Linked DNA regions of Homo sapiens: region 2 is linked to region 1. The links come from fine-mapping of genetic effects on gene expression. A gene starts in region 1. The other region holds a variant in brackets. All regions are shown on one strand. Distances are between the middles of the regions.

Region 1 (15,659 bases):
GGCGGAGGGGCTCCTCACTTCTCAGACGGGGCGGCCGGGCAGAGATGCTCCTCACATCCCAGACGGGGTGGCAGGGCAGAGGCGCTCCCCACATGTCAGATGATGGGCGGCCAGGCAGAGACGCTCCTCACTTCCTAGATGGGATGGCGGCCGGGAAGAGGTGCTCCTCACTTCCTAGATGGGATGGCGGCCGGGCAGAGACGCTCCTCACTTTCCAGACTGGGCAGCCAGGCAGAGGGGCTCCTCACATCCCAGACGATGGGCGGCCAGGCAGAGACACTCCTCACTTCCCAGACGGGGTGGCGGCTGGGCAGAGGCTGCAATCTCGGCACTTTGGGAGGCCAAGGCAGGCGGCTGGGAGGTGGAGGTTGTAGCGAGCCGAGATCACGCCACTGCACTCCAGCCTGGGCACCACTGAGCACTGAGTGAACGAGACTCCGTCTGCAATCCCGGCACCTCGAGAGGCTGAGGCTGGCGGATCACTCGCGGTTAGGAGCTGGAGACCAGCCCGGCCAACACAGTGAAACCCCATCTCCACCAAAAAAATACGAAAACCAGTCAGGCGTGGCGGCGCGCGCCTGCAATCGCAGGCACTCGGCAGGCTGAGGCAGAAGAATCAGGCAGGGAGGTTGCAGTGAGCCGAGATGGCAGCAGTACAGTCCAGCTTCGGCTCGGCATCAGAGGGAGACTGTGGAAAGAGAGGGAGAGGGAGACCGTGGGGAGAGGGGAGAGGGGAGAGGCAACTTGGTTATAATTAAAAGGAAATTGGCTAGGCACGGTGGCTCATGCCTGTAATCCCAGCACTTTGGGAGGCTGAGGTGGGCGGATCATATGAGGTCAGGAGTTCAAGTCCAGCCTGACCAACATGGTGAAACCCCGTCTCTACTAAAAATACAAAAAATAGCCAGGCATGGTGGCTCATTCCTGTAATTCCAGTTACACAGGAGGCTGAGGCAAGAGAATCGCTTGAACCTGGGAGACGAAGGTTGCAGTGAGCCAAGATCGTGCCATTGCATTCCAGCCTAGGTGACAAAGCCAGGCTCTCTTAGAAAAAAATTTAAAAAAAAATGTTTTAATGGACTTTTTAAAAAAGGAAATCATTTATAATAGTCCTGTATGTTAAAACAAAGCTTCTTTAAAGTATTGATTTGCTCTCAATAAAATTAATTGAACTTCTGCTTTTCATAATAATTCTATAATCTGTTTCTGCCTTTTCTCTGTTGAGAAGGCCTGAGATGGTAACTCAGCCTTTTTGTCAGCTCTTGTAACTTTTTTCTTCTGGTTTCAATTTTACTGTTACGGCCTAAGGCTGAAATGTTTTATCTTGAAGGTCAAAACAGAAAACATTGTTTTCCTCCGTTCTGTACTCTAGGCTTTTTTTGATATGTCTAAATTTTCAGTGTAATCAAGAAACTTCTCATGCTGTTCCTAAGAGTCATGTATTCCCGTGGTATGCTCATAACCTTGAACACACTCTTCCTGTGTCTGATTAAATTCCAGTACTTTTTCATCAAACTTGACTTCCAGGTTATCTAAGTGGGCTTCTCATAAGGAGAAGCAGTCACTGCAGATTTTTCTTTGCTTTTTTGGTAACTGGCTTAAGAGACAAGATTTTATAATTCTCATGCTGTCTTTATTAGGTTTTTGATTGCAAAATCTGAAATGTAAAAGGGTCAAGGTTTTTACATCCGTATTACCTTCTGTATTGCCTTTAAAGTCTTTTGATTATCACTTTTGTTAAGTAAGTAACTATTATTTTACAATGACCTGTGCTTCTGTTTGGATCAGATGTTTTGAGCCTTTTAACATCTTTAATAAACGTCCTCAAAATCAAAATCCTAAATTAAGTCTCTGAGGTGTCTTATTGCTGGGGCTTATTAAATCTATAAAAATTAATTGCTGCAAGGTTGTAGAACTTTTTTTTTTTTTTGAGACGGAGTCTCGCCCTGTCACCCAGCCTGGAGTGCAATGGCGAGATCCCGGCTCATTGCAACCTCCGGCTCCCGGGTTCAAGTGATTCTCCTGCCTCAGCCTCCCGAGTAGCTGGGATTACAGACACGTGCCACCACGTTCCAGCTAATTTTTTGTATTTTTAGTAGAGACGGGGTTTCACCATGTTGGCCGGGCTGGTCTCGAACTCCTGACCTAGAGATCCGTCCGCCTCGGCCTCCCAAAGTGCTGGGATTACAGGCGCGAGCCACCTCGTCCGGCTGTGAACATTTTTACAGCTTCCAGTCAGACCATGAACTCCACTATCACCACCTCTGGCCTGATAATTACATTTACTGGAAGCAAATCAGCTGAAGAACTCCCTTAGCCCCTTGAGGGAGTCCTTATCGGGGTCTATTAACTAATTTTCGTGCTGTTAAGTTGCAGGGCCTTGACTCCTGGGTACACATGTCGCATCTGAAGAACGCACTGACTCCTACCAGAAACTGACACCAAACTCAAGATGACCAAAGCCTCATCTTTAGACCTGGGCAAAGGTGACACTCAAAGTAAACTGCTTTCATGAAACACAGGGACAGGCCTGTATTCAAATACATTAAGGTTCATTTAGGCTGGGCGCAGTGGCTCACGCCTGTAATCCCAGCACTTTGGGAGGCCGAGGTGGGTGGATCCACGAGGTCAGGAGATCGAGACCATCCTGGCTAACAAGGTGAAACCCCGTCTCTACTAAAAATACAAAAAATTAGCCGGGCGTGGTGGCGGGCGCTACTCGGGAGGCTGAGGCAGGAGAATGGCGTGAACCCGGGAGGCGGAGCTTGCAGTGAGCCGAGATCGCGCCACTGCACTCCAGCCTGGGCGACAGAGCGAGACTCCGTCTCAAAAAAAAAGGTTCATTTAATAATTTTGCCTTTATTTGAAATAATGTAATATTTATTCTATGCCTAGATACTAAATAATTTAAAGGTTTAATTTTTTTTCTATCATTTGCAAAACTAGGCAGGGCTTGTGACCTTTTTGTTTAAAATGTTTTTAGCTCCTTGCGTTTGTTGTGCCTCCAGAATTTGAACTATACAATCCCTCCAGGCCCAGCATAAGATTGTAAGGGCCAATTCTGAGGAATAAAATTAATTCAGATCCTCCAACTGAATTAATGGATTCAGTCATTAATGGTCACAGAGATGCCTCAGCAGCTTAACAAAATGCTTGTGTTTTGTATAGCTAATTGCTACAAACCAGATTATGGTGGCTCAATGCACATAATTTATAAATAAGTCAATTATGTTACCTTGTCTTTTGGCTTTTGGTTTTTGGTTCTTATGTTGCTTAAAAGAGATTCGAAGGTTAATGAGTGCCTGCGCACTTCCATTCCATTTGGCTTAGAATAATTAATTGGTTATAAGTCTTTTGACTCTAAGTCCCTTAGCCGTAGGGGTCCCACTGAGGGACATGATAGACCTGGCACAGGTAGCACCCCCCCCCCCCCCCCCCCCCCCCGGCATCAATATGGGACAAAATAAAAGCTTGGCCATTGACACTGCCTCTGGCATACCTTTACAAAAAGCGGACTATAAACTAAAAAAAATCTGCATCCTCCCTAGTAGAATGGACACGCCTCTTGCCCAAAGGGGATCCAATTAAAAAAAAAAAAAAAACCTGAAAAACTAGTTCAGGCCATGATGGAAAGCTGGGGGTCAGACACGCCTCACTCCACTTTCCCCCATGCCTTGGAATTCAGGCACAAATGACCAGGCAAAATGCCTTTGCACCCTCGAAAAGAAAAACCCTCCTGCTGATTTTATGTGGGATGCTGTTAAAGCTGCTGTACCTTCTAGTACCTGGTTTTTACCACTTTTGGGCCCGTTAAGGGTGAGCTCATCGTTAATATTTGGCCCATGCATATTCAACTTGCTTGTAAAGTGCCTGTCTCTGGTTACAGCAGATCTAGGTAAAGGTGATCTTCAAGCTAGGGTTCCAGCTGCTTCCTGTCTTGGAATCAGACGCTCCTGCTGTCCCCTGGGGACCCTTAGATCAAGCAGCTGGAGATTCCCATGCCCTCGGTAGGCAGGGCCAGTGCTCTTAAATCAGCAGGAAGATGACACGGAAGACTGACCTCCTCCCTCATCTCCCTCAAGAATAAGGGATGGAATGGCTGAGCACGGTAGGTGGCTCATGCCTGTAATCCCAGCACTTTGGGAGGCCAAGGTAGGCAGATCGCTTGAGCTCAAGAGTTTGAGACCACCCTGCACAACATGGCAAAAACCCATCTCTACCAAAAATACAAAAATTAGCCGGGCGTGGTAGCACACACCTGTGGTCCCAGATACTCAGGAAGCTGAAGTCTGAGGATCGCTGGAGCCTGGGAAGGGGAGGCTGCAGTGAGCCATGATTATGCCACTGCATCCCAGCCTGGGTAACAGAGTGAGACCCTGTCTCAAAAAAAGAAAGAAAGAAAATAAATAAAAGAAGAAGGGATGGAAATCTCCAAGGGGGAAAATGAAATGGGAATAGCACTGGGTGGTCACAGGAGGATGGAAAAACCCAAACAACAGCTAGAATAAGAACGAGGCAAAGAAACCGCAGGTTAACAGAAAACCCAAAATAAGGAAGAGAAAATGGTCAAATCCTGGTCAGGGTGATATGTCCATGATCCTGGGAAAACTTGAATAAGGGTAAAAGTCTGTGGTAATGGGGGGAGGGAGTCCCTGAAATCACTCCTTTTCCAGAATACCTTATGATTATTCCACCCCCTAATTAAAAAAAAATCCATAAAATTAGAAACTCAAACTCTGATGTGACTCACTCTGCTGAGCACGCCCGCAATTCTCTTTTACGTGTGTGCTTTCGCTTTGCAGTAAAAGCTTCTTGCCTTTCGTTTCATTCTGACGTGTCCCTGAATTCTTTCTCATGCTGGTGTCAAGAACTTGGAAACTGGCTGGGGCTGGGGTCTCAGTGGCATCCAGAGACCCTCCGGAGACCTCCGACAGCTGTAGGTGATTGGGGGCGCCAATCACATAGGGGTCGGAGAGTGATGGAATGCACCTTAATTTTAATCTGAGTGTCATGGAAAACAGTTGGATGGTTCTATGCAGAGGAGTGACATGATCTGACTTATAGGAAAGATCATTCTATTGCTGTAGGAAAGCAGGGAGGTTAATTTATTAACAGAAGGTATTATGGGTTGAGTTGTGTCTCCTCAGAATATGTTAAATCCTAACCCCTAGTACCTGTGACTATAACCGTAACTGGAAGTGAGGTCTTTATAGATTATTGAATTAAGATGAGATGAGATCATTAGGGTGGGCCCTACTCCAATATGACTGGTGTCCTTAAAGGAGAGGAAAATCCCACGTGAGGACAAGGAGACCATCATGTGATGACAGAGGCAGAGGCTGGGGAGGGTGCCAAGGGCATTTTACAGTAAACCTGAAACACTCGTTCAGGCCGAGATGGAAAGGGGGGATGGATGCCTCATTATACCCTCCTCCCTTTGGAATTCAGGCACAGTTGACCAGCATTAACGTTAAAACAGAGACCTTAAGACTGACAAAGCAGAATTTTTGTAGCAATAAGATACCAATGTGACAGATTGCAAGCCCTGAAAGAAACTGGAGTATTTTACCCCAAATATATTCATTTGGCATATTTTGAAATAGCCTTGCAAAACTGTCTCTTTGGGGAAAAACATCTACATTCTGAGGAGACTCCCCTTCCTTTTCCAGGTCTTTTTCTTGATCCAGGAGATAATTTACTAAGAGTCCGGCACCTGAAGTTTGATAAGAAACATTTACAAAGTCCAGGTGAGGTGGGCCACACCTGTAATGCCAGCACTTTGGGAGTCTAAGGCAGAGGATCACTTGAGGTCAGGAGTTGGAGACCAGCCTGGCCAACACAGTGAAACCCTGTCTTTACTAAAAATACAAAAATTGGCCGGGTGTGGTGGTGCACGCCTGTAGTTCCAGCTACTTGGGAGGCTGAGTAGGGTGGATCGCTTGAACCTGGGGGGCAGAGGTTGCAGTGGGCCAAGATTGTGCCATTGGACTCCAGCCTGGGCAACAGAGTGAGACTCTGTCTCAAACAACAACAACAACAAAAAGAAACATCTACAATTCATTCTCTTTGAAGCCTGCTACCTGGAGGCCTCATCTGCACAACCCCTTATCTTAACCCAGACACTTCCTTCTACTGATTCCAAGTCTTTAAGTAAACTTTCTACCAATTGCCAATCAGAAAATCTTTGAATCCACCTATGACTGGAAGCTCCTCTCTTGGAGTTGTCCCACCTTTCTGGGCTGAACCAACGTACTTCTTACATGTACTGATTGATGTCTTCCGTATCCCTACCATGTATAAAACCAAGCTTAGCCCGACTACCCTGGGCACATGTTCTCAGGATCTGCAGGGGCTATGTTACAAGCCATGGTCACTCATCTTTGGATCAGAATAAATCTCGAATATTTTAGAGTTTGACTCTTTTCATTGACACTCATGCAGCAGACTATTGCCATCATCCAGGCCACACACTGTTAAATGGAAAAACCTTAGACACGTGTATGTTTTAACTGAGTGTATTTGAGCAAAACAAAACAGATTCCCGAATGGGGCAGCCCTCCAAACCAGAGCAGATAAGAGAACTCCAATCAGGAACCTGATCTGACAGCACCTATAGGAAACAGAAGTGTGTGATGGAGACAGCTAATTTGATTATAACTTCATTGCTTAACTGGTTACAGAGTTTCCTGCCATGAAGTAAAGCTCAGTTACTGTAGTTAAACTCCTTACTGGTTTGGTCTGGTAGGTGTAGTTCAGGGTTTCACTCTGTTATCAGAAAGGGGTTCCAATCCAGACCTCAAGAGGGTTCTTGGACCTTGTGCAAGAAAGAATTCTGGGCGAGTCCATAAATTGAAAGCAAACTTATTAAGAAAGGGAATAAAAGAATGGCTACTCCATAGGCAGAGCAGTGGCACTGGCTGCTTGACTGAATATACTTATGAGACTTGAAGCCAGCTGGACTTCCTGGGTCGAGTGGGGACTTGGAGAACTTTTCTGTCTTACAAGAGGATTGTAAAATGCACCAATCAGCACTCTGTAGCTAGGATTGTAAAATGCACCAATGAGCGCTCTGTAGCTAGCAAGAGGATTGTAAAATGCACCAATCAGTGCTCTGTAAAACGCACCAATCAGCAGGATCCTAAAAGTAGCCAATTGCAGGAAAGATTGAAAAAAGGGCATTCCGATAGGGCAGAAACAGAACATGGGAGGGGAGAAATAAGGGAATAAAAGCTGCCCCACCCCCCCACCCCCGCCAGCCAGCAGCAGCAATCCACTTGGGTCCCCTTCCATGCTGTGGAAGCTTTGTTCTTTTGCTCTTCATAATGAATCTTTTTTTTTTTTTTTTTGAGGTGGAGTCTCGCTCTGTGGCCCAGGCTGGAGTGCAGTGGCCCGATCTCGGCTCACTGGAAGCTCTGCCTCCCAGGTTCACGCCATTCTCCTGCCTCAGCCTCCTGGGTAGCTGGGATTACAGGCGCCCGCCACCATGTCCGGCTAATTTTTTGTATTTTTAGTAGAGACAGGGTTTCACCGTGTTAGCCAAGATGGTCTCGATCTCCTGACCTTGTGATCCACCCGCCTCGGCCTCCCAAAGTGCTGGGCTTACAGGCATGAGCCACCACGCCCGGCCTCTTCATAATAAATCTTGCTGCTGCTCACTCTTTGGGTCTATGCCACCTTTAAGAGCTGTAACACTGTGAAGGTCCGCAGCTTCATTCTTGAAGTCAGTGAGACCATGAACCCACCGGCAGGAACTAACTCCACACATAGTTATAGTTATCTCTTGATTATAGGCTAAATAAGGAGGGGATTATTCATGAGTTTTCTGGGAAAGAGGTTGGCAATTGCTGGAACTGAGGGTTCCTCCCCTTTTTAGACCATATAGAGTAATTTCCTGATGTTGCCATAGCATTTGTAAACTCTCATGGCGCTGGTAGGAGTGTCCTTTAGCATGCTAATACGTTATAATCAGCAAATAATGAGCAATGAGGACACAGAGGTCACTTTTGTGGCCATCTTGGTTTTGGTAGGCTTTGGGCCAGTTTCTTTACTGTGTCATCTTATCAGTGCGGTCTTTGTGACCTGTATCTTGTGCCCACCACCTCATCCTGTGGCCAAGAATGTCTAACCCCCTGGGAATGCAGCCCAGTAGGTCTCACCCTCATTTTACCCAGTCCCTATTCAAGATGGAATCGCTCTGGTTAAAAGGCCTCTGACATGTTGAGCCATCCTTTCACCTCAGCCTCTCAAGTAGCTGGACTACAGGTGTGCCACACCATCCCCTGCTAATTTTCCAAAAAAATTTTGGTAGAGAAGGGGGTCTCCTTATGTTGTCCAGGCTGGTCTCAAACTCCTGGGCTCAAACGATCCTTCCATCTTGGCCTCCCAAAGCATTGGGATCACACGCGCGAGCCACCGCACCTGGCCCCACAAGTTTCTTTTAGCACCATGACGGTGGCTTCAAATAGGGCGGCAGTGGAGGTAAGAGGCCATCAGCCACAGGAGGAGCGTGGGTGGGAGGGCAGGAGAGGTCAGAATGCCTTCCAGGGGTTTGGGCCTCAGCGTTGGAGTGATGGAGCTGCCCTGACCTGAGACGGTGGAAAGCGAAGGGGCCTCGCAGCGAGCTGGTTTGGGGTTCAGGGCAGAGGTTGCGCCTGGAGCAGAAAGGCACCTGACTGCTATACTGGGGGCACATAGTGGGCCTCGGCACTCCACCTGCCAGCAAAATCATTTTCTATAACGCCGCAAGCCTAAAAATGGGCCGATAAACACAAACCAGACCCTGAACCAGATCGTTGTTAACTCTTCAACCTGCCTTCCAGCCGAACCTCTTAGGCCAGAGCTGGGACCAGGCCGGGTTGGGCGTCGCGCTTGTCAATCATCTAGAACCGGGTGTGATTGAGCGAGTTGGGATCCCACTGCCGACAGCCGCGCGGAGGCGGTCGGGAAACCGGAAAACGCTTCCAATGGCTGTGTTTCCGGCGACGGCGCGGGGGCAGCTGGGAATCCGGAATGCTGCCCGATGGCCCTGGGTCCTCGCTGTGGGGCAATCCGGGCTTGCAGACGAGGTAAGGTCGATTCCATTTGGCCCGGGGATGGTCACACGCGCGGGGGCCGGAACTGCCGTCGCCGGCGCGGTCGTTGTCGCATTGCTCTCGGCCGCACTCGCGCTGTACGGGCCGCCACTGGACGCAGGTACCCGACCGCTGACCGCCTCTGCTGGCTCGCGGGGGGGAAGCGCCGCCGAGGGGCAGCCCGCGCGCGGGGCCGGGGCGCCGTGTGGCCTGCGGGGCGGAGTAGGGAGAGGACGGAGGCCTCCTGGAACGGCGCGGCGACGGCTGGGCGCGGCTTGGGTGATGGGAGCCTCCGTGCGGGGTGACAGAGGGGCAGAGGGTGGCGCCGGGCCGGAGCCAGTGCGCGTCCCAGGAGCGGCGGAGCCCGCGCGGTGGCCGGGGAACGGGGGGCCGAGGGCCGAGGACGGTAGGAGGGCCCTGGGGCGCCGTGGTGCGCTGGTCGGATCCGTCTGCTCTGCTCTGTCCCCGCTCCCGGTCTGGGAAAGATGCTCGCCAACTGCGGGCTTGCTGTTTGGTCGGAGCTGGATACGGGGGCCCTCCTGGGGCCCAGGGACGCGGCGGGCGTGCAGGCGAGCTGGCCGGCTGAGCGGGCTTCGCGCACACCAGGAGCAGGGCCGTGTCTGCATCCCCAATTTGAAGTCCCAGTGCGACTGGGCAAGTACAGACCCTGCACGTCCTTGGACGAGAGGGACTGGATATTGCGACGCCTGGGCCGCAGAAAAGGACTCCACCAGCCAGGCCTCCTTCGCCCGCCCCCGGTTCGGGGTGTGTGTGTGCGTGTAGGAGGTCCCTTGGGGAGGGAGGCTCACCTGAGTCATCCCCAGAACCTGAAGTGCTGGCCAGATGTCCCCGAGGGCCCTGCCCTGGCCTTGGCTGGTCCTTGCACGCTGAGATGCCTTTTCAAATAGAACGGATAAGGTAGAAAGAATTTAAACAGGAGCTGAGCAAGTGCTTGGAGCCCCATCTCTTCATAGGGTTTTTTTGTCTTTCTGTTTGCCTTGTTGGTATTGGTGTATCTAACATATTTTATACAGGAAGTAGTTCGTGTATATCTCATTTCTCATAAGGAGAGATTGCTGTTATCCACCTTGGTATAGAAGATAAATAGAAGCTCAGAGAAAGTGACTTAGCCAGGATTCTCCAGCCAGTGAGTGGCCGAAATGGTTAAACGCACCATTTGTTGCTGTAGTCATTAGATAGATTTTACCTTGTGTGTATGTTGGGCATCGTCAGAGAGTTTGGCTTTTTGTTTTCATCAGCACACACTGAGAATGCACTGGGTGGCGCTGAGAGGGTACTCTACACTGCACCTCACTCACACCAGCAGGGAGGCTTCTTAACACTTTATTTAGAGATTTATTTGTAGCTCTTTACCTTAAATTCACACACCGTGATTAGTAGCAAGATTTTTCATTGCGCTTGGTTGAGGATTTATTATCAGACTGCCTAAACTTTTACGAAAAGCCAGGTAGAGTTGTATATTACTGAGGCTTTAGGAAATATTTCAGTTAACTTAGGGATTGTGGTTAAATGCTCTAAATTAGTTATAACTCACATTAACTTAAAGTATTTTTGTTTTTTTAAGTAGAATTTTCCAGTACTAAAAGCACTTTTAGCACAAAGCAGCAGTGATAGTCTTCCCCAGACACGCTTCCTTAAAACAAAAGCCAAACAAATTTAACCTGTTCTTCCAGACTCAGAATTGTCTGAAGAGTTACCGAATGGGATACATCTTAAGTCGCCTATTGTCAAGGCCTTTTTATCCTTCAGAACTTTGATCTTTATATGTAAATGTTTCTGTGTTAACATTTGAAATGTTAAGTTCAAATGGTGACGTCAGTAAGCCAGCTGGAACTTGCTTCACTGCCAAGTGCTGGGAAGTTTAGTTGACCTGCTTTGGCCCTTTTGCTAACAGAAGCTGTTTATCTTAGGTGAATGCTGGTGAGCAGCCTGGATTTTACTTTGTGTTAATACAATTCTATTCAAGTGAAAATGCTATACTTCTTATTTTGCCTTAAAATGGCAGCATTTTACACCTACTGTGTGCCCACAAAAATAAAAACAAAAACATGGCAGCACTTTGGTAAAATAGTGTCTTGTGGCCTGGCTTGTCCATTACTAACCACAGCATCTGCACAGGTTTCTCTCTGGGCCCCAGTTTCCTTATCTGTAAAAGAAAGATAAAGTGCTAGTGAGGAGAGTGAATCACGATGTCTTGACTTCATCGAACATGTATCAAGTGTCTTGTTCTGTGCCAGGCTGTGTTCGAGGTGATTGAGTCCCACATGGAAGCAGTCAGTGCTGCAGCTTGCGGATGGTGCCACATTCCTCGTGGGCAGGCAGTAGTAGGGTGCTGATTCTCTGCCAGTCCAGACATAAGAACTTCCTTCTTATGTCCAGGTCAGCCCCTACCATGTAGGTTGTCTGTGTGCTCGAAAGGTTTCAGAACCCCACATGTAATAATAGTTACTTTTGGTATCACTTTGAATTTTTAAAATTATGTAGCAAAAAAGTTACTATTAATTATATTATGAGTTTAACATAATTTTAAGCTAGCTTCCATTTGAGAGCCGTTGTTCTCATGTGTAAATCTTGAAATATTCAGTTTCTGGATGGCGCTTCTTGTTCTCCAGGGTTCTTAGACCCAGCCCTTACGGTAGCATCATGGCCAGGGAACTGGGAATCTCACAAAGTCTTAAGATTTCACAACGGAACAGGAGCAGGAGGAGGCGACTCCCGCTGGTGGGTTGATCAAGTTGCTGTGAAGGTGGTTTGCACATTTTGGGCTTCAAAACACTACCTTCTGTATAAGATAAAGGAATAGCTCAGAACAGGATTCCCCCCGTGTTTTCTTCCTAGCTATGATAAAGATTGCCGTGTGAATGCAGTGGGTTTTACACACTCAGAATTGATATTTTTGGCTTGTGGTAAATGGGACTTTAATGCTTAACCTGCTGTAGAAAAATCCGCCTTAGAAAGTGGCCCTTATTCGTATATTGTATTCGATGTTTGAGCCCCCTGATATCTTATCATTTTAACAAAGCTTACCTTGAAGTGCAGGAAAAATTGTATGTGTTCTTGTCATTATTTGAATAACAACAAAAATCAGTATTAGCTTTAAAGCCTGTAGGTTTTAAGCGTATCCTTGCCTGGACTAGCATATCTCCTCTTTCTCAACCAAAAAGATCAGAAAGGTGCTATCCCAGTACCAAAAGTACTGGGAGGACTTTCAGCAGAGTGTGACGCAGAAGGGAAGCTTTTCCGCTCTGGGGAGCAGATGCGGAGAGGACAAGCACTTGGAACACAGCATCCCTGGGAGCTCTGGTGCTGCAGTTGTGACCCCGAGGCGGCCCTGCTGTGCCCTCCTGGGAGTGCTGGGCGACACTGGTTGCAGAGGGGCATTGGTGCTCCCCTCCACCTGACAGGTGCTCCACCTGGACTCGTGGCTGCAGCTTAATTTTGTGTCAGATCCTTTCCGGTAATGTATAGGTTATTTCAACTATGAGGCAAAGTGCAAATGGGTAGTTCAGTGTGGGTTTATGGTATTTGCCCTTTTTGATATAAACATTAAATATTTCATACCTCACCTATAGTACTTTTTTTAAGACTTAAATCTGAAATTTAAGATACAGATGTTTGTAAGATATGAATCTTGGATATTGGGAGAAAGAAGCCTCCTGGAAAATATACAGTATTATCTGGTGGAACCATTTTATTCCTTTTCTTATTGTGAGAAATACACATTTATGAAGTATTACCATTTAGGAGTTGTTTTCATCAGGCAGGGTACATTGATATAAATGTTGATTTTTAACATCCGTAAGTTGAAGTCTGACTAAATTGTTTTTCTCTGTGATTTCATAAGTCACAATTTATATTTTATATGACCTTAAATATTTAATTTGAAGTACTGGTATATTTAAAGGTGCTAAAACTACACGCATGCATCTCTACTAGTGGTTCTTAACCCAGGCTCATTTTGCCCCATCCAGAAGACATTTGGGAGTGTTGAGATATTGCTGGTTGTCACCACTGGGTGCGTGTACATGCACTGCTGACTGGGTAGAAGCCGGGGATGCTGCTCAGCATCCTTCAGTGCATAGAACAGCTCCCCACGACAAAGACAGGATGCTGATCGATACCCATAAATGTCTTTTTTTTTGAGACAAGAGTCTCGCTGTGTCACCCAGGCTGGAGTGCAGTGGCATAATCTTGGCTCACTGCAGCCTCCACCTTCTGGGTTCAAACAGTTCTTCTGCCTCAGCCTCCCGAGTAGCTGGAATTACAGGCATGCACCACCGTGCCCAACTAATTTTTGTATTTTTAGTAGAGATGGGGTTTCACTATGTTGGCCAGGCTGGTCTCGAACTCCTGACCTCAAGTGATCCACCCACCTTGGCCTCCCAAAGTGCTGAGATTACAGCGGGGAGCCACTGCGCCTGGCCCCATAAATGTCTCTTCTAGACAAGTGTATTGTTTTAAAACCATAATTTAGCCCTCCTGGAGGGATTTCAAGGATGGGTGCATTGGTCCCCTGCAGGTAGCTCAGCAAGCTTCATTGTGTCTCTCCTTGGCCCACAGTTTATAGTGATTCTGTGCCGGGTCTTGTGTGTTGGTCTGGAAGAAGGTGAAAAGATTTGGGGTTGGGCTGAGCGCGGTGGCTCACACCTGTAATCCTAGCACTTTGGGAGGCCGAGGTGGGCAGATCACAAGGTCAGGAGATCGAGACCACCCTGGCCAACATGGTGAAACCCCGTCTCTGCTAAAAATACAAAAATTAGCTGGGCGTGGTGGCATGCGCCTGTAGTCCCAGCTACTCAGGAGGCTGACGCAGGAGAATTGCTTGGACCAGGGGGTCGTAGGTTGCAGTGAGCCGAGATTGTACCACTGCACTCCAGCCTGGCGACAGAGTGAGACTCTGTCTCAAAAAAAAAAAAAAAAAAGAATTTGGGTTGATGGGGATTCATAGGATCTTTTTATCTTGGGGAATCCCAGCATCTGCTCTATCAGCTAAGGCAGTTACATCTACTCATAAAGAAAATTCCTTCAAAAGTTTTGTTGAGTAAAAAGTAAAACTGTAAGAGTTAAAAGACAAAGCTCTTTTGCTGTGAAACGCTCAGTGAGCTTTGGACTGCAGTCAGTGGAACTTGTGACACTGGTTTTTCTCTGCTGCTGAGATAATTGGAAGGATAAAAATATTGAGTGCCTTGTTTGAAAAAATACTGTTTATATTTGCAAAGATCCTTTCATTCTAGGGAGAATGTATGCTTTATTCATTGAGCTCTATAGAACATACCAGCATTTCTCTCATAGCCGAGCTGTTTTAAATATTAAGGTAAAATATATAACACAGGAAGCTCTTCAAGAAAGGCCAATTGAAGTGTAGCTGTTTAGAGACAACTCAAGATGATGAAAATACATTAAATGCCACTTTGAACCCAATTTAAGAGGTGTGCCATATTTAGAATGCCATTTCTAGGTTATTTAATTAATACCCAGTTGAGTGTTGGAATACAGTTGGGAGTAATATGATGAATCTGTCAGACTTCTGAGCACCCCAGCGGATTACAGGTGGGAGCTTGCTTTCCAGTTTGTGAGGAGAGAAAAGACCTAATAATCCTAAAGGGAAATTGAAATGAAGTGATAGTTTATTAAGTAATAATGCATTTTTTTACTTGATAAAACTTTCTGGAAAATTAAATGGTCTTCCAAAATTTCAGATACATTTCAAAAATAAACCTGATAGAAATAGCATATGTTGTCCTGGTGGGGTGGCTCATGCCTGTAATCCCAGCACTTTGGGAGGCTGAGGCGGGCAGATCACTTGAGGTAAGGAGTTGGAGACCAGCCTGGCCAACATGGTGAAACCCTGTCTCTACTAAGAATACAAAAATTAGCAGGGCAGGGTGGCAGGTGCCTGTAATCCCAGATACTCCGGAGGCTGAGGCAGGAGAATCGCTTGAACCCAGGAGGTGGAGGTTGCAGTGAGCAGGATCGTGCCACTGCACTCCAGCTTGGGTGACAGAGCTAGACTCTGTCTCAAATAAATAAATAAATAGCATGTGTTACTATATGTGTTAATTACATGTGTTCAGGCTGGGCATGGTGGTTCACGCCTGTAATCCCAGCACTTTGAGAGGCTGCAGCTGGCAGATCACTTGAGGTCAGGAGTTCTAGACCAGCATGGCCAACATGATGAAACCCTATCTCTACTGAAAATACAAAAATTAGCCAGGTGTGGTAGTAGACACCTATAATCCCAGCTGCTCAGGAGGCTGAGGCAGGAGAATTGCTTGAACCTGGGAGGCAGAGGTTGCAGTGAGCTGAGATCACGCCACTGCACTCCAGCCTGGGTGACAGAGTCAGAGTTCGTCTCAAAAAAGAAAAAAAAAATTGCATGTGTTAATGTAATTTTGAACATCATATTTGCTTACAGAAATCCATTGGGTAAAAATCTATAGCATTCGTAATAACTTTGGAGAGGGTTTTGGTTAATGGGCTATTATGTGTACTAACAATATCTGTTTACCTTTCTGAATTATTCATTTTTCTTGTCTTTCAGTTTTAGAAAGAGCGTTTTCGCTACGT
Region 2 (14,257 bases), 21 kb after region 1:
GATCACTTTGTGCCTGCTGTAAATAAATACCACCTGGGATCAGGGGCGATAAAAAGATGGGGATGGCTGCCAGCTCTGTGTTCCCTGCGTCCTCTGACGCTCCCTGGGCTGGTGTGTCTCTGCTGGGGGTTGTGCTCCTGTGGGGCTGCCCTCTGAGACCCTTTCTCAAGTTCCGGGGGACCCCTGTTAGAGCTCCTGGGGGAAGACACAGTGTGCCAGATGGCTTGGTGCCACAGGGTGCTCACATGTGCAAGGCGTGGTGACTGCATGGGGATCAGAGGCCGGGCATTAGTGAGGGACTACGCTTGAAGCCCTTAGAAGGTGCCTGGCCATTTTGTGTTCCCCAGATCAGCAGTCACCCTGAAAATGCCAGCCATCTGCATGGCACTCTGTTGGGTGCTTAGTTAATGGAGGGGTCTCTGAGGCTGCGGGGCTTGAAGGCGGCGAGTGATGGAGCCAGCAGTGCAGGATGAGTCATCTGAGGGGCAGGCAGACGCAGGCTGACACTGCACAGACCAGGAAAAGCGGCGTGGAGTCAGCACGGGAGCCCGTCTTTGAGCTTTAAGGTCTTACCCGCTCACCGGGAAGGAGGAGGTGGCCATGTTTAGGAGCAGTAGAACCCTCTGTCATCCCCGGGGAGAGGCTCTCAATGGGGAGTCCCATCTGCAGGCTGCGGGTCTGCGGTGCACGGCTGCTGCTTCCTGTCCAGCTCTGCATCCTGGGGGTGCGGATGAATTAGAGGTGAACGAGCCAGAGTGCTCTGCTTCAGGTTATTTTCTTTGTGAATTTAAGTTCACAATTTAAAAACTGGTATCTTAAAAAACCACTGTACTGCGTGGAAGTGTGAAAGGTGGGAAGTGAGGGTGTGCGTCGCTGCCCCTGCAGCCCAGACTCTGGACCTTGCATTCTGGTTCCTGTACACTGTTGCCGTGGTCTTGAGAGCCCTCAGGTCATCTAGCGTGGGCTGCCGCCTCCTCGTCAGCTTCCAGCTCGTGTCTGGTGCGGAGCAGAGGCTTCCTACTTCGTCGACGTTCCTGAATGAGGTCATCATCTGGTGTAGGCCTGAAAACAACCCGATTAGGTAGATTCCTATTCATAGCCCCATTCTTCTGATGACAGATTGAGTCCTGGCAAGGATTCAAGACGCCCGTGGGATCTGGTAGCAAAGAAACTGCAGAGATGGTTTTTTAAAAACGACTTTATTTAGATGATTTACCTACCATACCCCTCACCCATTTAAAGTGAACTATGCGGTGGCTTCAAGTATATTCATAGTTGTGCAACCATCACCATGATCAACCTTAGAATATGTTTATTGCCTCCAGAAGCAGCCCATCCCCGTTAGCATCTGCTCCCTGTTCCCCAGTCTCCCCAGTTCCTGGCAGCCACTCAGCTAGTATGCTTTCTGTCTCTCTGGATTCGCCTGTTCAGGACATTTCATATGAATGGAATTATGCAACGTGTGCTATTTAGTGATTAGTTATGTCACTCTGCATAATTTTATATTTAGAGTTACCTGTGTTGTAGCATGTATCAGTATTCCATTCCTTTTTATATCTAATATTTCACTGTATGCATACACCACCTTTGGTTTATCTGTTGATTAATTTATGGAAAATTGGTTTCCACTTTTTGTGTGGATGTGTTTTCACTCTCCTGGGTGTTAAGTGTTTCACATTTTGAGGCCCTGCCACTGTTTCCCATAGCGGCTGCACTATTTTCCATTCCCTCTAGCAGTGTGCGAGGGCTCTGATTCTCCACATCGTTCCCAGCACTTGTTACTGTTGTTGTCTACTTAGCAGCCACTCTAGTGGGCGTGGAGCGACCTCACTGTGGTTTGGTTTGCGTTTTCCTGGCAGCTGATGCTGTTGAGCATCTTTGCATGTGCTCATTGGCTGTTTGGGTATCTTTTTTTTTGTTTTTGTTTTGTTTTGTTTTTGAGACATATTCTCACTCTGTCACCCAGGCTGGAGTATAATGGCGTGATCTTGGCTCACTGCAATCTCCACCTCCTGGGTTTAAGTGATTCCTTTGCCTTGGCCTCCAAGTAGCTTGGACTACAGGCGCCCACCATCACACCCAGCTAATTTTTGTATTTTTAGTAGAGATGGGGTTTCACCATGTTGGCCAGGCTGGTCTCGAACTCCTGACCTTAGGTATCCGCCCGCCTCAGCCTCCCAAAGTGCTGGGGTTACAGGCGTGAGCTACCATGCCTGGCCTCTTTGGGTATCTTCTTTGGAGAAGTGTCTATTCATACCCTTTCCCCACTTTGAAAACTGTTTTTTGCCTTTTTTTTATTGACTTTTAGGAGTTCTTCATATACGTTCTAGACACAGGTTCCTTATCAGAGAGACGATTTGCCGATATCCTCTCATTCTGTAGGTTGTCTTTTCACTTCGATGGTTTTGTTTACAGCACAGTTTTTAATTTTGAAGTCCAATTTAGCTGTTTTTTCTTTTGTCCCTTGTGCTGTTGGTGTCTTATCTCAGAAGCTTCTGCCTAACCCAAGGTTTACTCCTACATGTTAAGAGCCTTATTGTTTTGGTTGTTACTTTAGCTCTGCGGTGCATGTCGAGCTGATGCTGGTGTGGTAGGAGGAGGCTCCAGCGTCAGTCTTTTGCTTGTGGGTGTCCAGCTGTTGCAGCACCATGTGCTGGAGAGACTCCTTTTTCCTCCCAACTTGTCATCCTCCCTGACAATCCGTTGACCCTAAATGTGAAGGCTTATTTCTGGACTGTTGTTTCTGTTTTGTTGATCTGTACAGCTGTCCTGCAACTGCCCGGTCTTGACTGCTGTGGCTGTGTAGGAAGCCTTGACGTCGAAAGCCCGAGTCCTCCAAATTCGCTCTTTTTAAGGTTGTTTTGGCTCTCCTGGGTCCCATGCATTCCAGTTTTGGATCAGCTTGCTGATTTGTGGAATAGGCAGCCGCAACTTTGGTAGGGATGATGTTGAAACTGAAGATCAGTTGGGGGAATGTCTAACAACATTAAGTCTTCTGGTTCCTGGGCTGGCTTTGAACCCACGTTGTCTGAATCTGGAGCGCAGGCTCTTGACCAATGCACCTGTCCTCACACTGTGCTCTTTGCACACTCGTTAACAGTGTGTCCTGGAGACTTTTTCATGGAAGGATATGTGGATACTCATTATTTTTAACAGCCACATCAGAATTTATGGATCTACTACAGTGTATTTAGTTCATTTACACTGTTTTCAGCTTTTTCTTCATGTTAACATCAGTGGTGTCCTGAATCTATGTGTTTTGTGCACTCTTTTGGGTGAAGTTCCATTGCTGAATCAGAGTAAGGACGTTTAAATTTTTGAGAGATGCCCCCAGATTTCTCCCTAGTGTACCAAGGTTTGCTTTCCCATGGGTGGGGACACCCTTCTGCGCTGGGTGCTCTGATGCTGCAAACCTTTCTAGGAGACCCATGTAACATTGCATTTTCCAGGGTTTGAATATTCACTTTTGAGTACTATTTGCAAATACATTAAAAGAAAACACAGAAACAGATGAAAATGTCAGATTGTTGCCAAATACTGCAACATGAAATCAGAAACTGATCTAAAATCTGAATTAGCAAAAGCCTGCCAGTTTTAACAGTAAAGCCAAACTCAGGGCAAGCAGACAAAGAATTTTTATTGTTAATAAAGGGAATAATAAACTTCCATGAAGTCTCAGGTACCTGCCTCCCTGGAAGGGGCTTCAGGACACACTGCTAATGCTCGGACCAGTGTCAGAGCCAAATACACACTTTCCTATGGCTGGAATGTGCGTCATAAACAGGCTGAAATGAGCACTTTGTTAGGCGAGCAGCTAATGCTTTGTCAGCTTTCAAATTTCATTTAATATACACGGCTTTAGTTTTCAATACTTTAAATTATTCTTAGCATGTATTTTTATGTCCAGAATTGGTGGGTTCTTGGTCTCACTGACTTCAAGAATGAAGCCGTGGACCCTCGCGGTGAGTGTTACAGCTCTTAAGGTGGCGCGTCTGGAGTCTGTTCCTTCTGATGTTCAGATGTGTTCGGAGTTTCTTCCTTCTGGTGGGTTCGTGGTCTCTGTCTCAGGAGTGAGGCTACAGACCTTCGCGGTGAGTGTTACAGCTCTTAAGGCAGCGCGTCTGGAGTTGTTCGTTCCTCCCGGTGGGCTCGTGGTCTCGCTGGCTTCAGGAGTGAAGCTGCAGATCTTCGCGGTGACTGTTACAGCTCATAAAAGCAGTGTGGACCCAAAGAGTGAGCAGTAGCAAGATTTATTGCAAAGAGCGAAAGAACAAAGTTTCCACAGCGTGGAAGGGGACCCGAGCGGGTTACCAATGCTGGCTCGGGCAGCCTGCTTTTATTCTCTTATCCGGCCCCGCCCACATCCTGCTGATTGGTAGAGCCGAGTGGCCTGTTTTGTCAGGGCACTGATTGGTGTGTTTACAATCCCTGAGCTAGACACAAAGGTTCTCCACGTCCCCATCAGATTAGTTAGATACAGAGTTTCGACACACAGGTTCTCCAAGGCCCCACCAGAGCATCTAGATACAGAGTGTCGATAGGTGCACTCACAAACCCTGAGTTAGACACAGAGTGCTGATTGGTGTATTTACAAACCTTGAGCTAGATACAGAGTGCCGATTGGTGTATTTACAATCCCTGACCTAGACATAAAGGTTCTCCAAGGCCCCACCAGAGCAGCTAGATACAGAGTGTCGATTGGTGCATTCACAAACCCTGAGCTAAACACAGGGTGCTGATTGGTGCACTCACAAACCCTGAGCTAGACACAGGGTGCTGATTGGTGTGTTTACAATCCCTGAGCTAGATATAAAGACTCTCCACATCCCCACCAGACTCAGGAGCCCAGCTGGCTTCACCCAGTGGATCCCGCACCAGGGCTGCAGGTGGAGCTGCCTGCCAGTCCTGCGCCGTGCGTTCGCATTCCTCAGCCCTTGGGTGGTCGATGGGACTGGGTGCCGTGGAGCAGGGGGTGGTGCTCGTCGGGGAGGCTCGGGCCGCACAGGAGCCCATGGAGGGGGTGGGAGGCTCAGGCATGGCGGGCTGCAGGTCCCGAGCCCTGCCCGGCGGGAAGGCAGCTAAGGCCCGGTGAGAAATTGAGCACAGTGCCGGTGGGCTGGCACTGCTGCAGGACCCAGTACACCCTCTGCAGCCGCTGGCCCGGGTGCTAAGTCCCTCATTGCCCCGGGCCAGCAGGGCTGGCCGGCTGCTCCGAGTGCGGGGCCCGCCAAGCCCACGCCCACCCGGAACTCCAGCTGGCCCGCAAGCGCTGCAGGCAGCCCCAGTTCCCGCTCGCGCCTCTCCCTCCACACCTCCCTGCAAGCTGAGGGAGTGGGCTCCAGCCTTGGCCAGCCCAGAAAGGGGCTCCCACAGTGCAGTGGTGGGCTGAAGGGCTCCTCAAATGCCGCCAAAGTGGGAGCCCAGGCAGAGGAGGTGCTGAGAGCAAGCGAGGGCTCTGAGGACTGCCAGCATGCTGTCACCTCTCATTTTGTTTAATGTTTTCTATTTTAATGTTTTGTATTATCAGGTGTCTGTCAAGTCAGGATCACTTTACATGCTACTGCAGTGTATAATCTTGTCACAATGTATTGGCTCATAATAATAAAAACCACCAAATATTACATATATGTGTGTGTATCTATACATGTAGTTTTTTTTTTTTAATAGAAAACCTTTGAAACCTTCACTGTAATCCTATCAGGGAAAAATGATTCCCTGTTTATTATTGTTGTTATTTTAAAACGTGTAAGTAAAGTGATATGAAAAATACATAATGACTAATGATTTGGGGAATTCTCAGGAATTCAGATTTCCTGCCTCCGAATGCTGCGTATTAGTATCTGTTGGAGAACTGGATGCCCTTGCTGGGGCGGGGGCTGTCTTCATGGGTTAGCCTAGGAGCCCAGCTGTTGTTCATAGCGTTTCCAGTGGGCTTCGCCTTTCAGAGTTCCCAGTGTCCTGCCTTGTTTACGGGCTCTGCGAGTTCATTGGGTCTTTCTGCTTCTCTATTTTATTCATTTACTTGATTATTTTCCATTTATTGTTTGATGGCCTGATGTTGCATTTTATTAAGAGTCTGCTCAATTTTCTGTCACTCTTGGGAAAAGTGTCTTAGTCGGTTTTGCGCTGCTGTAGCCGTACCACAGACTGGGTAATTGATAATGAACAGGCGTTTACTGGCTCACAGTTCTGAAGGTGGATGTCCAACATCAAGGTGCCGGCATCTGGCGAGGGCAGAAGGGCAGGAGAGAGACCCTTATGCCTCTTTTAAAGGTCATTAAACCAACCCATGAGGACACTGCCACATCACCTTTTAAAGGCCCCACCTCCCAGGACCCTTCCCTTGGCAATTAAGTTTCACCATGAGTTTTGAGAAGACACATACCCACACCATAGCAGCAGGCATGGTGCTCAGTCTGGTTTTCTCTTCTGGCAGGGCATTTTGGAAGTGTCAAAGGCCAGGGACATCCCTGTTGTCATCGACGCGGTGAGTTGACTTCTCTCCTCCTGGCTCGGACTCCCGGAAGGCCTGTGCAGTGAGCACGGCTCCTTGTTCTGTGCAGGATGGCCTGTGGCTGGTCGCTCAGCAGCCGGCCCTCATCCATGGCTACCGGAAGGCTGTGCTCACTCCCAACCACGTGGAGTTCAGCAGACTGTATGACGCTGTGGTGAGTCAGTGGACCCCCTGGAGGGTAGATGCAAGCCCTGTTCGTCCTGAAGAGGGTGAAGGACGAGCTCCATGCTTCTGCCCAGCCTGTCCCTGTGGACACACCTGCAAGTAATCGCTGTGCCTCTCCCAGCGGATGGCGCGTCTTCCCATTAATGCGCTTGGATTGGATGAACGATGGTGTAGTGGGCTTGGGACAGGCAGGGACTCGGGTCAGTCAGCCCCTCCTGCAGTGCACTCTGGACAGGTCACTTTGTCTGTGTCCTGAGTGCCTCATCTGTAATGTGATGATGGCATCAGCTTCACGGGGTTGTGAGGATGAGATGAGGAAACCTATGTAAAGCCGTGAGTCCCCACATGGTAAGTGTCCCATCAATGTTAGTGCCCAGTACGACTGGAATTTGTATTACTCCTGCAAAGCTCTCAGAACCCAGTCTTGGGTGGTCCTCCTTCAGCCTGCTCTGATGAGGTAGAGGATGGGCACTGGAGCAGGCACCGTGTCAGCACCTGCTCGGAGGACTCACTGCAGGTGATATCCTGGGCATCCTCCCACCTACATGGCCTTTAACAGGTGCCTGGGTGATCCCTTTAGACACGAGAGCATGAGTCTCATGGCGGATGGGACAGGGCTATCTGTCGTCGTGTGTCTGAGGAAGACTTTGCTTTTTCTCTGTCTTCCTGTGTTGTCATAGCTCAGAGGCCCTATGGACAGCGATGACAGCCATGGATCTGTGCTAAGACTCAGCCAAGCCCTGGGCAACGTGACGGTGGTCCAGAAAGGAGAGCGCGACATCCTCTCCAACGGCCAGCAGGGTGAGTGGCGGCTGCCCTCTGTGCATGGGCCAGTGCCAGGTCAGTCAGCATGGCCACACCGAGCATGAGCCCTGGAAGACCTCTCCCGTGCACACCCGTGTTCACACACATTCACACAGGGATTCCTGATGAGCTCGTCAACCACACTTTCTTCAGAGTCCATGTTTTGACTTTTCACTGTTTTGCCAGGGGAGGTGACAGTGGTGAGGGCAGGCTTTCGAGCCGTGGGCCTTACCCGTTGGTTGAATTCCCTTGCCTCAGTTATGAGAAGCAGTCTGGCGGGAGGGTGCCTGCAACAGCAGGGCACAGTGCAGGGTCCCGCGTCTCCAGCTGCCACCTTCATCTCACCTGTGGCATCCACCATCCATGCAGTTATTTGGGTATTTTATTGCATTTCATTCTCTTTTATCAAAATGACTGGAAAGTGCAGAAAGCCCCGAAGCTGATGCTGGTAGTGGAATCTCAGGCACTGAGTGTGGCGAGTCTCAACTGGCCACTCCCACGGAGCCTGGGGAGGCTTCAGCAAGAGCCAAGTGAGAGCAGGGCAGAGGCCGGGCCCAGCGCCAGCGAGGCATCTGGGGAGCCGTGCCCTTGTTAGCGCTGAAAATGGAAGCCCCTCCATTCAGGCCTGGACAGATGATGGGCAGCGAATGTGCTCACCTGCTGAGCTGTGGGGCTGGACTAGGTACCAAAATCAGGGTAGAACACTGAGGCGTCTGTGGGCGGGTGTGTGCACATCCACACTTGTACACTCACATTCACATGCACATATGTGCACACGCATGCAATTCATACACATGCACAGTTGTGCTCACAGCCTCGCACGCCCTTGCACACTCGCACTTATACACATGCATGGTCATGCTCACAGCCTCGCACACGCCCTCGCACACTCATCCACACACAGCTGTGCACAAGGAACACAGAGCAGATGTTCTCAGAGGGACTCTG[A/G]CACCTTTGAGATGAGGGTTTTTTAATCACTGGAAGGCTCTCTTGGGTCTAACAGGTTCAGAGAATGTAACACCTGGTTTTCAAAACATTTTTCAAAGAAATAGAGAATTCCCATACACAGGCATACGTGACGTTATGAGGCCGGTGGAGGCCTCGCTCGGTGTTGCCCTGTATGGTTGAGCTGTGGTTTAAGGTGAACTCTGGAGTGTGGGCTGCAGGTGAGGGCTCCGTCCCTGGGAGCTGGTGGGAGGAGCTGGAGGCTGGCGCCGCCCTGCTCAGAGCTGCCTGCTTGGGCTCGTCTGAGGCGGTTCCGAGCTGCAGGTGTCTCCACCAACCTGCTGTGCTACACAGCGGGGTCTGGGGCAGCCTCACCACTGCGTGTCTTGGTTTCCTCTTCTGTAAAACAGAGGCTGCCTCCAACCCTTGGAACAAACAGGGAAGAGCCGTAGCAGGCAGGATGTGAGTGGAGCCTCAGGCTGCTCCTGGAGGGTGTGGCTCTGCCTGCCGTGCGGCCTTCCACACCCGTGGCTACTGTCACATTCACACACATGGCCATGCTGACACCTGCTCTCACTTCTGCCCTGTGCAGTGCTTGTGTGCAGCCAGGAAGGCAGCAGCCGCAGGTGTGGAGGGCAAGGGGACCTCCTGTCGGGCTCCCTGGGCGTCCTGGTACACTGGGCGCTCCTTGCTGGACCACAGAAAACAAATGGGTAAGGCCACGTCTTCATTTATTCTACTTTGAAACCGTCTGATTTTTCTAAGCTGTTTCAGTAGCTCATGCGTTGAATAAGTAGCCCTGGAAACACTGACAATGAACTCTAGGCTTCACTGGAGAGATCTCGGCACAGACGAACCCTCTTGGCAGAAGCTTCCACCCCACACTTGGGCCTGGGCCTGTCCATCATTCACTGTGGATGGGGCCTGGGGCAGGGGTGGTCTTCAGAGCTCTCCAGAGAGTTCCGAGGTGCAACCAAGGCCCAGCAGCACGCTGTTCTGGGAAGTTGAGTGGTTTATTCTGTGTAACACAGAATACTAAGATAGAAAACAGACAGGGTCAAGGCTTACTTAGACACTTGTTCTTAAAGATGTGAATTTTCTTTAAGAGACAGCAGAATTCTAGGACCAGGGCCCTTGGCCCAGTTCTGTAGTCAGAGAACTTTATGAATGCAAGCAGTTCCCATACCTCTAAGCATCTCCATTTCTCTTCTGTGAGCCCATCAAGGTGGTGGCTGCAGGTGCTAGGTGTGGCAGACCCGGGCTTCTGGAGGGTGGGCAGGGCTGTCATCCAGTGGCCTCATGTGTCCTCATTGCCGGGATGGCAGAGTCTGGGACCATCCCCCAAACTAGGTGTGTCCACATGAATTTGAGAGCCGAGGAGGTAGGGGTGTGGGCAGGAGTCTTACTGTTCATTCTGCTGTGTTCACTCGAGTTGCCTCCACCCCTCCCCCAGGAGATGGAGCCCTGGTAGCAGGAATCCCCATTCTCAGACCTCAGATGCCCTCTGCACCTGGGCACTGAGAGCACAGTCAAACAGGGCTAAGCAGCTTGTGCCGCCTGGCTTTCCCCGGGAACACCTGGCCCACTGTGTGCCCTAGCCCTGGACCTGTCTCCGAGTACATAGACGTTTCCTGTGTGCCTCCTGCCAGGGAGTAGTGGAGGGTTAATGGTGGTTTTCGCTGTGATAAACCTGCTTTCTCCTCAGGGGCATATCAGACTTGAAATTGACAATTTGGGGTCCTGAGATTGAAACAGGAGTCAAAACCAGAGCCCAGGGTAGCTGCGGCCCCCGGACCACGACGCCCACTTCCCCACACCTCCTGCTGTCCCCCTCTCCGCAGGTCCAGCCCTCTCCTGGTGGCCGCGTTTGGCGCCTGCTCTCTCACCAGGCAGTGCAACCACCAAGCCTTCCAGAAGCACGGTCGCTCCACCACCACCTCCGACATGATCGCCGAGGTGGGGGCCGCCTTCAGCAAGCTCTTTGAAACCTGAGCCCGCGCAGACCAGAAGTAAACAGGCACCTTGGACGGGGGAGAGCGTGTGTGTGATGGGAAAATCCGGACCCACGCGTGTGCTGAAGGCGTACGGTGCTTGCCAGATTTTCAACTTGAGCATAAATTGGTTGCCATTGAGAATTTAAGAATCTGGAATATTGCAGCTTTTGGTTAAACTTAATGCATGGTTGGAGATGTTATGGCGACACTAAACAAAGTATTCCTGAACTTTCCTTAGCTCCTTGGTAGTAACTGGGAAGACAGAAATGAAGAAAATCACATGAGAATGAAGAATTCTTTAGCAGCTCAACAGAGTTTCTCGGCCTGCTCCCAGATCGGCGAAGTTTCTACTTGTTACTCTCTCTGCCGGCGCCCTTCGTTCCTCCTCTGCTTCCCTTCCCTAGTCTTTCCTCCGGCAGGGAGCTGGGCAGGGGTCCCCGGGTGTCTCCCTGAGTCCCGACTGCACTGACTGGGTCCATCAGAGGGCTGCTTCGTTCTCCAGCTCATCTTCTTTTAAAGTGGTGACTAGCTTGGTGGTATCTGGCTGCTGGTGTTTGGCTTATTGACATACTCCAGGGTAATCAATGATGACTTTGTTTGGAAACCCTTTTGGAGGCACCATGGGAACAGAAGGAAACATGAGTGACGCTGACCCTTGAGTGTGTGGGTGGGGAGCTCTGAGACGCCTCCTGTCCCACGCTCTCCGGTGTCCGTGTCTACACAGGGGTCCCCATGATACCCACCGGCCCCAGCAGGGCAGACCGGACCGGGGACGGGCACGGTGAAGGGCTGCAGCCTGGGGTCTGACGTGGCCCCTAGTGCTGTCTCAGGAGAAGGCTCTGGAGGACTTGAGGCATGCTGGGCCTGGTGCAGTGATGGCGCTAAGGAGACCCGGGGAAAGACAGTATCGTGGTCACGTATGCTTAGGAAGCAGCACAGCCGTGTCCTTAGGGATGTTCGCGTCCAGTAAAGACACTGGTAACTGCGGTTTCAGCCAACACTCTTCATGGCAGTGTCGACCTCGGGTTAGCTTCTGTTGTCTTTGTGGATGGTTTTCCTGGAGCGGCCTGACGTTGACGTGTTCTCTGGTCCCATGTCTTAGCGGGGCATGGTACGGTTTCGTGCCTGACGCGTGCATTAGGGTGTTCTCTTATACTTTCAGTAGCATCTTTCCACAGCAAGGGCCAAACCCTCCTGGTTCCCTTCAGAGTCTTTTTGGCCTGATGATGACTCTTGAGTGATACCCTGTGATGCAGACATGCCCCAGATGGATTCTACTTTCTTTAAAACTAGGGACTTTCAAGATTAAAAAAAAGATTGTCACTACTAATTTGACGCCTAACTTCAGAAGCTTCACTGTCTACATGTGAACTTTTCCAGAAAAACTGTGCCATGGACATTTTTCCTCTGGGGAATTAACATCTAAATTCTGGTAACTATTAAAAGACAGATCTGGTTAATTTAAATTGAGTATTGTATTTTTTTCCTTAAACAGCTAAAGCTCACCTTTCAACTTTCTTAGGTGAGGACATTGTGTGAGATGCCAGGGAGATAAGAATATCTAAGCCTGTCTGTGTGAGATTGGCCTCCTCGCCAGCGCCTCTCCCGTGGTGGCTGCAATAAAGCACCTTGAAGGATAAGCCCAAGGCAGCCCCTTCTTTCCTTAGGAAATAGAATTCAGCAGTCACAGGAACTATTCGTCTGGTTTTTGTTCTAAGTAAAACATCCCTTTGCTTAAAGGAGAGAATGGGTTTTTTTACAAGCAGCTCATTGCTTCCATGTTCTTTCTCAAACCCACGTATTTCACGCACTCGCTCCAGCCGGACACGCTCCCAGGAGCTTCCCTGGACCAGGAGAGCAACGGGAAAGTGTGGGGGGGTGGGCGGCCCGTAATGCCCCAGTACTGAGCAGCCCTGTCGAGATGCCTCATTGTAAGGAGCCCTCTGGGGACTTTTTCTATGTGGGTAGCTTTACTAGGGTGATTTTCTAGGTGAGTGACTTCTGAACTGTAGACAGGAGACCTGTACCTCAGGGTCACGGTTAAATGATGAGCAAGCCCGTATCCCCAGTCACGGGTCCCGCTGCTGCCTGTGCCCTTGGGATTCAGAGATGCCAGTGTGACAGGGAGAGGCCTGGCCCAGGGTCTGCGAGCAGGAAGAGTGGAGAGGGGTCACCCTGCTGAGTCACTGACAGCTGTGGCGCTGGGCTTACCACAGAAGGGTGAGATCAGGAGCAAGGTGGGTGCTTCAGGAGGCCACCGGTCCTGTAGCCCAGGCAGCCTGCCGTGTGCTGGCCGCCACCTCCCGCTCAGGAATCCTGTCTGTCACAGCTCGCCAGCTGGCTTTCAGCCTGGCTGCCCTGACTCCTCCGGAACCAACCTTTCCCAGGCCCAGCTCGACCCCATCACTGCTCTGCACAGACCATGACCACCAAGATGGCCTGCAGCTGCCAGGATGTTAACTGCAGCGGGACTGCAGACGGGTTCTCAGCTGCATTTTTCCTATGCTGAATACGTTACTTTTGTAACCAGAGAGAAAACGTAAGATTGTGTTCTTGCTGGGGGAGGTGTCCCGGGGTTAGCATTGCTGGCGTCCCACCTCTGCTTCAGACTATGCTGCGTGGCCCACCCACCTCACCCATCCCCAGCCCCTCCCTCAGGAGGAAACAGGCTGCATTCTGCCGCCTCCCGGGGTCCCTGCTCTTCTGTTGGCTGTGTTGTCTGTTCCCTGGGCACAGGGCCAGCAGGTCTCACGCACAGGCACGTGTGCTGCTGGATGCTACTGAATGTCTGACACTACTTCACTCAATCGACGGTGAGTCTGTAGCCACAGAACGCAGTGAGTGTTTAGGCTCAGTTACTAACAAACAGACGCCAGTGGGACACTGTTGGTTGCCTTACTTTAATGCTGACCTAGCAGCCCCGACAGGAAGCTTTAACATAAAGCCTTGACCCTGAGAAGCATGGGTGCGTCTTGTCGTGAGCAGGTTCATGGCTGTGCTCCATCCTCAGCCCGCTGATTTTTGGTCTTTTGTCCTTTGATCCAGCAGTTCCCACGTGGATGTTGTACTGCTTCTGTCCTGGAGAAGAAGAGTGAGGTCCAACTCTGAGCAGACACCACGTCATGTGGCACAGGGGGCTGACAGGCGTAATCAGGTTCAGGGTGCCTGTTCCCTCACCGGCCTGTCCTAAAAAGCTTGCCAGGCGCTTAGAAAGGGCCCCACTACCTCCAGCAGAAGGCCAGGAGCTTCAAGGCACCTGCAGGAGGTGGCGGGGGCTGAGCAGGACCCACGTCCCCGTGCTCAGCGTCCCCTGCAGCCAACTTGGCCCCTCCCTCACGGCCCTCCCACCTCATTTTTTATGGGGGTGGGTTTCTCTACTCAGAAGCATGGGCAGGGCGCAGTGGCTCACGCCTGTAATCCTGGCACTTTGGGAGGCTGAGGTGGGAGGATCACCTGAGGTCGGGAGTTTGAGACCAGCCTGACCCACGTGGAGAAAACCTGTCTCTACTAAAAATAAAAAATCAGCCGAGCATGGGAGTGCATGCCTGTAATCCTAGCTACTCAGGAGGCTGAGGCAGGAGAATCGCTTGAACCTGGGAGGCAGAGGCAGAGGTTGTGGTGAGCCGAGATCACGCCATTGCACTCCAGCCTGGGTGACAAGAGTGAAACTCCGTCTCAAAAAAAAAGCATGGTCACGGGGGATGTCTGGGCCTCTGATGGCCCCACGTCCTGTTGACCTACCCGGCTCCTGGGGTGATGTCCCTGACCTTGGTGCGGCACTCACCTTGATGTTGATGCCGTGGGCAGTCAGGCCCCGGCGCAGGGTGTCGCATGC

What was found. PIP is the estimated chance that this variant, and not a neighbour inherited with it, causes the effect. A credible set is the group of variants that fine-mapping cannot tell apart.
Region 2: its variant is the best candidate, but not a certain one, in a credible set for the expression of NAXD in whole blood (INTERVAL, PIP 0.64).

The regions. Positions count from the first base shown.
Region 1 is chr13:110,606,583-110,622,241 of GRCh38, forward strand. NAXD (NAD(P)HX dehydratase) reads left to right here and starts at 8,963. Exons shown (of 10, transcript NM_001242882.2): 1 at 8,963-9,065; 2 at 15,634-15,659. The coding sequence starts at 9,020. It overlaps NAXD-AS1 (NAXD antisense RNA 1), which reads right to left and starts at 9,771. Exons shown (of 1, transcript NR_182301.1): 1 at 6,500-9,771. RefSeq lists enhancers at 3,731-4,231, 4,232-4,732, 8,044-8,971, 9,873-9,922, 9,943-9,992 and silencers at 9,173-9,422, 9,433-9,592.
Region 2 is chr13:110,628,109-110,642,365 of GRCh38, forward strand. It overlaps NAXD (NAD(P)HX dehydratase), which reads left to right. Exons shown (of 10, transcript NM_001242882.2): 6 at 6,437-6,487; 7 at 6,564-6,668; 8 at 7,360-7,480; 9 at 9,021-9,141; 10 at 10,270-11,888. The coding sequence ends at 10,420. It overlaps CARS2 (cysteinyl-tRNA synthetase 2, mitochondrial), which reads right to left. Exons shown (of 15, transcript NM_024537.4): 14 at 14,207-14,257; 15 at 13,309-13,500. The coding sequence ends at 13,429. Among named protein-coding and RNA genes, the nearest start is that of NAXD-AS1, 19 kb to the left of the region's middle. RefSeq lists enhancers at 4,458-5,120, 6,115-6,944, 6,945-7,773, 8,604-9,432. The variant A/G (reference allele first, on the strand shown) is at 8,432.